2 separate regions of the Homo sapiens genome follow, and region 1 is linked to region 2. The links come from fine-mapping of genetic effects on gene expression. A gene starts in region 2. The other region holds a variant in brackets. All regions are shown on one strand. Distances are from middle to middle.

Evidence for each region. PIP is the estimated chance that this variant, and not a neighbour inherited with it, causes the effect.
Region 1: its variant is the best candidate, but not a certain one, in a credible set for the expression of SAXO2 in microglia (Young 2019, PIP 0.65).

Annotation. Positions count from the first base shown.
Region 1 is chr15:82,331,599-82,335,823 of GRCh38, forward strand. It overlaps the pseudogene ADAMTS7P1. Among named protein-coding and RNA genes, the nearest start is that of GOLGA6L10, 16 kb to the right of the region's middle. The variant A/G (reference allele first, on the strand shown) is at 1,641.
Region 2 is chr15:82,260,200-82,264,429 of GRCh38, forward strand. It overlaps SAXO2 (stabilizer of axonemal microtubules 2), which reads left to right and starts at 2,619. Exons shown (of 4, transcript NM_001348699.2): 1 at 2,619-2,733. The coding sequence starts at 2,681. It overlaps EFL1 (elongation factor like GTPase 1), which reads right to left and starts at 2,535. Exons shown (of 20, transcript NM_024580.6): 1 at 2,415-2,535; 2 at 1,489-1,598. The coding sequence starts at 1,579. RefSeq lists a silencer at 465-651 and enhancers at 2,660-2,749, 2,770-2,839.

The DNA of each region.
Region 1 (4,225 bases), 71 kb after region 2:
TGTAGTCTGGGCTCAGGAGCCACTGAAAATCCTGATGCCACAGGATCCCATGCTGGAGGCTTGGCTGTGCTGGGAGTCAGTCAAGAGAAGTCCCAGCTACACAACATCCTGCAGGCAGCTTTCTGACCTCCAGTGAGTAGAGAGAGTGGCCTTGGCCCCTGATTTGCTGTGTGAACCTGGGTAAGCTCTTTCCCCTCTGGGTCTCAGTCTTCCCATAGTGAGACCAGGGATGTCCCTGAAGCTGTGTGAAAACTGGGCCTGGGTGAGTCCCTGTCCCCTCCCCAGCCCTAGCCTGTCCATTCCCTGGCCAGAGGACTGCCTAGAGTGAGCAATGGAACCACAGGAAGGGCCTCCCTTCCAGGGTCCTGCTAATCCCAGTGGTGGGGGGTTTCCTGGCCAGCTGGGTCCTGGTGGAAGGGCCTGAGCTAGAGGTGGTTCTGGATATCCCAACCCCCCACCTCCAACACACACACACACACACTCACACACTTCCTGCAGCCCCAGCTGCTCTCAGCAGTGCTGAGGGCAGGAAATGGGGTGGCCCTGGAGTGTCACCTGGGCTCCCCTCACCAGCTGTGTGGCCTTGGGCTCCATTTCCCTCTCAGGGCCTTCATGTGCTGAATAAAGGGGCTGCCAAGCCCCATCCTTGCATAAGTGAGGTCTGGGCATGAAGGGCACAGCACTGCGTGGGGATCCAGGTGGTGCTCAGGGAAGGCGGCTTTTTCCCCTCCCGCAAAGCCACTGTCATCCCCCATTGCAAGGTCAGGGAGAGGGCCTGGGGCTGACCCTGCCAGTCTAAGGAATCCAGGAGCTGTGGCCTGAAGAGCTGCGGCCCCTGTGCTATTGGCTGTCTGCCCCCTGACCCTAGGACAGAGTCCTCAGCCACGGCCCTCAAACTGGCATTCGGGGCCCCCTGCAGTCTCCCCAGTCTGCCTTCTCCCCTTATCCAATGCGCCTTCTCTACCTGCGCTGGCTCCTGGGCAGCCCTCATTTGGGCTCAGAGTGGCCCCTGCCATGCCTCGCTGCCATGCCTTGCTACCCTGCCTCTGGCAGGGGTGGCCTTCCTGCCACAAACCCCATTACCTCAAGGCCAAGTGGCAGTGCCCCCACCCTGTCCTGCCTGCCCTCAGCACGCACCCAGCCAGCATCTCAGAGCACTCCTGTGTGCTGCCTGAGCTGGGTGCTGGCATCACATCTCTCGCCTTCATGGCTAGAGCTGGCCACAGGGAGTGGGGTGGTTATGATCCCAGGGGATGAGGACCAGATGGAGCAGAGAACAGGAACTGAGGCCCCTGGGGGCCTAGAACCAAGGACAGATGGCCCAGGAGGCTCTGGGCTTGTAAGGTCTCCCAGGGGCGGGTATGAGTGGGCTGCAGGGAGTGGGCTATGGGGGCTGGTTAGGTGGCTGAACTAGAAGCTGTCCTAAGTGAGGAGTTTTCTGCCACCAGTGAACAGTGGAGGGGCAGCTGGGAAGGTGTCTTGGACTTTGAGACCTGGAATTCCCAGGATGTTTTGCTGGTCTGTGGGACAGTTGGCGGGACGGGGGAAAGCCAGGAAACTCCAGAGTGTGCGGTCGCTGCAGTGACACAGCATGGCCACATCCATTTGCTGTGGAGGTGGGGTTGACAGAGGAGGGAACC[A/G]AGGCCCAAGAGGTGAAGCAGCTTGTCTGAGGTCACCCCGGGCGACCAGGATGCAGGCCTGCAGATGTGCACTTTGGAGCTCTGCCTGGAGCTGGGGTGGAGGAGCCTGCCTGCTGCCTCGTGCCCTCTGCCGGGCCTGAGGGATGTCCCTGGCACAGGGCTGGCTGCTGTCCTCCTGCTCTTCCTCCCCAGGGAGGTCTGCTGGAGTAAGCAGGGCCCAGGCGGCAGGTGGGGGCTGTCAGCAGTGGCAGTGGCATCAGGAGCAAGGCCAGGAGGCTGGAAACAAGCCACTTCCCAAAATAGCTCTGATAACCACGGGGCAGGAGGGCCCAGCCAAGCCTCAGCCCTGACAACCACAGCCTGCAGCCGGCCTCCCTCCCCACTGGGCCTGGGCTTAGTCCCTGGTTTCCGCTGACAGCCTGTAGGGCCCACTCTCTCTAGGCTTCGTGGCCCACCTGGGAAATGGGAGGCTGGCCTGGGAGATGCGACCTGTGACTCAGAACCCGAGGCTGAGTACAGCCCCTGTGGCTGGAGGTGGTCACGGAGGCCTGGCAGGACAGATGCACTGGGGCAGGGGGCGGTGGCGGGAGTCGGGGGCAGAGGCCACTGCAGGCTGGCAGGAGGCCCCGGGACCGCAGTTCTGTGCCAGGATCTGTCGGGGAACACCAGGGGTGAGCAAGGATGGAGATGGGGTGGCAAGGCGTCGCCCTGGGCAGGCTCTTTAACAGGCATGTGAGGGGGTCAGGGTGCGGTCTCAGGACCTTTCCTCCAGAAACCTCAGCCCAGCAGCGCCCGTTCTCGAGTCCTGGGGTCGGCCGTGAGTAGGTGGGACAGAGACACCAACAGTTGGAGACCTGCAAGTCCAGTTTGGGAGCCGCTCCAGAAACTGGGGCTCTCTGCTTGGTGGGGAGCTGCTGGAGCCTCCTTGAGGTGGTTGGGGTGGGGAGCCAGGTTCTGGGTACCCCAAACCACTGGTTCTGATGCCTCTCTGCCCCCCCACTCCAGGCTGTGAGCGGGACCGCCTGTCCTTCGGGTTCTGTGAGACACTGCGCCTACTGGGCCGCTGCCAGCTGCCCACCGTCTGCACCCAGTGCTGCCGCTCGTGCTCTCCGCCCAGCCACGGCTCCCCCTCCCGAGGCCATCAGCGGGTCACCCGCCACTGACGGTGCCAGGATGCACAGACCGACCGACAGACCTCAGTGCCCACCACGGGCTGTGGCGGAGCTCCCGCCCCCTACGCCCTAATGGTGCTAACCCCCTCTCACTACCCAGCGGCAGGCTGGGGAGCTCCTCCCCCTCGAAAAAGGTATTTTTTTATTCTAACAGTTTGTGTAACATTTATTATGATTTTACATAAATGAGCATCTACCATACTAAAGCACAGTGTGACTTCATCTTGGATTTGGGGAATCTTAAAAGTGAGAAACTCTTCCCCCGACCCCTCTGCCCAAAACTCCACCGCTGCAGCACCTCGGCAGGCGCGGCTTTTCACCTGCTCCTCTGGGGCAGATCTGCAGGGGGCAGCGTAGCAAACGAGTCCCTGAGAGCATGGCATCTGGTGAGGCACGGAAGGCCTCGGAAGCCAGAGGGCTGCTGCCCAGGGAGGCCTGTCTGCAGAGGGTGGGGTTCTGGGGGCAGGAAGGTCTTCTGGGCAGGGGCACAGCTTGGCCCTTACTTGCTGCCTGCCTTCAGCTCAGGCTCCCAGCCTTCCCTGGGGCCCCACTCTGTGGTCCTCAGAGACCTGTTCCACAGGGATTGAGCCCACCTTGTCACTTGCAGGGACTGCCCCCTGGAGTGGTGGGGACTGGGGCCCCCATGGGCACCTCCCTGGCTCTGTCTGTTCTATCTGTTGACTCTTCTGCAAAAAGCGGGCAGAGAGGGGAAGAGCAGGCTGGCCAATTTTGCCCTACTGTGTCCCCACGTGTCCCTTCATCTCTGTGCCCAGAGATAGGGCTGGGCTAATTGCCACTGCCTTGGGTTGGCCCCTTTCCCACCACCAGCCCAAGCAACAGGTTCCTACCATGCTGATCTATGGTCCAGCACCTGGCACCTGCCTACCCACAGCCCCTTCCCCTCCCATAAAATCTAGTCCCATGGAGCCAGACAGTAGTGCCCACAGCAGGGAACAGATGGGCATGAAGGTGCTTTGAAGAGGGTCCTGGCCTGACCAGGGGCGGGAGGCTGGAGAAGGGGCGGACACTGTCCTCCCAGGCCCAGGCCCAGCCCTGGATCCGACCCTGGCCTCTGGCTGTGAGCCTTAGACTCAGCCGTTGACAATTTCCTCCTCAGCCCTCCCCCTGGAAGGTGTTACGCCCCTTCTACAGGTGGGGGACACTAAGGTTCAGAGAGGCCACCCTGCAGCCTACAGGGGTCACCTCTCACATTCTACTCTCCAGCGTATGACAACCCTGGACGAAAGGCAAATGTAGCCCTGGAGCCTGCATGTGGCAGCCGCGGCCACTCAGGGCTGGGTGTATGCTGGGGATGGAGAGGACACCACTGAAAATCACTCCTGGCTGGGCGCGGTGGCTCACACCTGTAATCCCAGCACTTTGGGAGGCTGAGGTGGGCGGATCACCTAAGGT
Region 2 (4,230 bases):
CACCCCACTAACTTTCCACTTGAATAAATTCATAAAGAAAAAAAAAACCCTTTTATCAGCCTTCACATTCTCAAAATGTGAGCAGTAAAATTATAAAAACTCATGGAGGCAGGGGTTACTCACTGGATTTGTACTAAAACTCATTCACAGCTGGCTTCACTTGTAAGTGATCCACTATCTGTCTTTCTGTCAGTTTCCATACTCACATTACTTCAGCTCTTCTATCAATGACAACAGCCACCTAATCTCTGACTTTGGATCCATCCTAAGCATGTCTACCAATCTAATCTTTCTCATGTTTTATTTGATTACATCATTCCTGCTCCATGTTTTCCCCCAAAGGCTCCCTACTGCCTAATAGTAGACATTAATGATCGTTTTCATGGTGAAGCGTTTACCTTCCCTCTCATTATTATCACATTTAATCCTATAGCCTATAAAGCAGGTATAGTTTTCATCCTGTTTTACAGATGCTGTATATTGAAGCTCAAAAAGGCAAGGTATGTAACTTGAAAATGGAGATCTGAACTTAGGTTGTCTAACTCCAGAGCTGGAGCACTCAACTCTTATCCCAGTTCCTAGCTGGCATGAGCAGCTCTATGAGATATGACTCAGCCTGCTTCTTCACCTCGCCAACTGGTCCTTCATCTTCAGGATGGTAAATATGTTTTATTTCATATGCCCATCCCAATCACTTTGCTGTGGTTACCTAAACTACCAAGAGGTTTGAAATCAAGAGGAGGCTTAGCATGAAGGAGCGCTATGGAGTTACAGCAGTATCTGTCAGAAGAACATACCATGGGTTAGCTATCTCTGCCTTTCCCATATACTGGGCTTTGACCACATATATTTCCCTCTCCCCTTGATGACACATTCCCACCTGTAATGATTATCTCCATTTGTCATCTTGAGCCCCCTTCAAGTGTCATCTCTAATACTAATTATGTTGTGAGGTCTTTTCCTAACCCCTCACTTCCTAATCCTCTAGTTCTCCCAACCTTAGAGTCTACTTTTTTCTCTTGTTTGTCTCATTTTGCTCTGCTCCCCGTTAAAACCTCCCCTGGGCTAGTGCCCTACTCATAAATCTCCACCTTCAGACATACTAAGCAAAATATCTTGAACTTAACAGACGTTTGATAAATATCTGATGAATTAAATAGGATCACATACCACAGACTCTAAGGACATTATGTCAAGACTACAGACATTTTATATGTAAAGCCATTTCAAAAACAAAAAATTCAAGTTCTGCTTTAAAAAACAACATGACATAATATATAGAAGAATGCTACTCACTAGGTAACCGTGTTCATTTCAAATGCTTTATAGCAAAGCAGGCTTCCCTAACATCACACAAAACTTTTAAAGAAAGAAGACTTGCTTCTTAGCAAACATCACTCTCAGCTGTCCACAGCTTCACTCCACTGAGACATACAGAGACACATCTCCCTTATTTATCAAAATAAGCCATTTAAAAAGTATTCTTACCATGGTCAACATGAGCCAAAACACAAATATTCCTGATGTTGGCAGTGTTTTTCTGGAGTTGAATCATCTTATCCAAACTGTTGAGCACCATGATTACTTATTTCCTGTGACTAAAAATTAAATATGTATTACAAATGGCCCAGAGGCTAAAGGTCGGGGCAAAAGAAAAAAATAATAATAAACGCTGGGAGGTGGCAAGCTTCTCAAACCCCTTAAACCAAGAACCCAGTGAATGTTTATTGATGAGATAGACCACCAAGGCCTAAGTCCAGTTCGAGCACTAAAGTCAGTATCCTACCACGATTACACTTAAGGAGTTTGCTCATCCTTCCGGATCCAAAGGCTGCGATGAATCACGCAGCTCGAGGGGACTGGGTGCACAGTGACACCAGTAACCCTGCCGGTGGAGGAGTACTCCAGTAAACATCTCCAGGCCAATGACCACGTACAGGAAGGGTTGCATCCAGGAGGGAGAGAAAATGCTGAAGAAGATGCTCCCTTTCTCTCTTCAGTCTTCCCCCAAGTCCCTCATTCTGACATTCTCGCTCGTCCTCGCGCGAGGTCAAATACCCAGCTTTATTCCTGCCCATGGAGCCCGAACAAAGTTTTGGGTCACGTGCTTATTATCCAAGCAGGTGCACTGCCGGTCTTTCATTCCTTTCTAAATAAAAAGGAAAAACCTCTACACTACATGCCCTTCATTTCTGCAGGGTCCCAGATTCGTTCTCTTTGAGGATCCTGGGTCCACACAGACAGGCGACCGCCCCGGCCCCAGACGGGAAGCGGCACTCCGGGGACCGAAGCTCCCAGCCCGCGCTCGGCCCCAGCCCCTGTTCCCGCCTCAGAGCCGCAGCGAGCGGGTTCCTCCGGCACCGCCCAAAGGCTGGCCTAGGAGGTTCCAGCCCCCAGCGCCAGCCCACACTCACCGGCTGCAGCAGCCCCACCAGCCCCGCTCCTTCTCTCGGGTCGCACCCACACCGAGAGCTTCCGAAAGTCCGAGAGCTCTGCGGGTCCGACACGCCCGCGCGCCAGGGGGCGGGGCCGGCTGTCGCTCGACCTTTCACCCGCACGTCTCTGACGCCGCCGGAAGCCGGCGCCGAGTCTGTCACCGGGCATCCCTCTGTTGCCTTGACTACGGCGGGCGCTGTGGGAGTGGAGAAGCTGCAAGTGCTGAGGCGCGGTGGAGGAAAGCATGGGAGCCAAGAGTATGAGGAGCTGGTGTCTGTGTCAGATTTGTAGCTGCGGGTAAGAAACGGCTGGTGTAGCGGCGGGCCCGGGCTTGGGAGCCGACCTAGGGCCTAGGTGCACGGAGCCGGCTCCTCGGGAACCCTGAGAGTGGCCGTCCCCCGGAGATGAAGGGACGAGGGCGCAGCGACATCCCCACTTATCCCGCTCCGCGAATACTCGCTCCTCACCCGCCTGCTACCCGGGGGTAAAACGTTTGTTCGTAGCCCCTGAGACTCCCAATCAAGGATGCAAAGTAAAATGCCACCCGGGCCAGGTAAGTAATATATGTGAAGCCGCGACGGGATATAACGCTGGTGAGTAGTGGGATGTGATCCGACTGGGAGAGTGCATTTCCACCCCATAATCCCCCACCACGAAGATGAGAAAGAACAGTGCTCAAGGCCCTGAGTCTGCAACCCATATCACATTTTCTTTCATCTGTAGCTTTCTGTCCTCCCAGCCAGACCATATTCCCATTCCCGTCCAGGCAGCAGTTCTTTGGGATCCGCCTGACTGAAAAGTCAGTAAGTAGTCCCTACCCTGAAATCTAGAATCCAACTGTGAGTCCTGCCTAACAACCTTCCATCACCTGTAAACACAGTCCTCTCCTTCCTCAGCTTCACTATTGACCCAGGGATTAGATCATTATTTGCTAAGTAAATATGAACGTTGTCAATCCCTGGTGTATTTGTAATCCCATTCAAAGAAAACACCTACATGTTGATGGAAAGCAGTTTTTTTAATAGTCTCATAATAAACACAGTTCATAATTATATATAGATTAAAATATCAACAAATTAACTTTGGGTGTATGAATCCTCAGACTGGTGTGCAGGAGAAAATTTTTACTTTTCTCCTAATTTATATTCAACGCAAGTTCCTTTCTCATTCAACTGTAAGGAAATTCAGTCTTCATTATGTTGAGGGCCACCATTGGAATGGCGTGATTTTACTTCTTGTTTGTTTGTTTTGGGCTGTGGTTGTTAGTTTTGTCTTTTTAAGGGTTTATTTTTATTTTTTGACAATGCAATAAATACACAAGAAGTATCATAAAAATCTAAGCAAAAATATCTATAATATTGTAAAACGCCTTCATAATTCTATCTTCCACAGATAACAAATGTTCTTTAAGACTTGTTTTACATATGCATTGATTTTTTTTTTTTTTTTTTTTTGAGACAGAGTCTGGCTCTCTTGCCAGGCTGGAGTGCAGTGGCGCAATCTCGGCTCACTGCAATCTCCGCCTCCCGGGTTCAAGCAATTCTCCTGCCTCAGCCTCTCTGAGTAGCTGGGATTACAGGCTCGTGCGACCACACCCAGCTAATTTTTGTATTTTTAGTAGAGACGGGGTTTCACCATGTTGGCCTCCATCTCCTGACCTCATGATCTGCCTGCCTCGGCTTCCCAAAGTGCTGGGATTACAGGCGTGAGCCACTGCGCCTGGCCTGCATTGATTTTTTTTTTTTTTTAACAAAAAAAGAGAATATTCTGAGCATACTATTCTACAATCCGGTT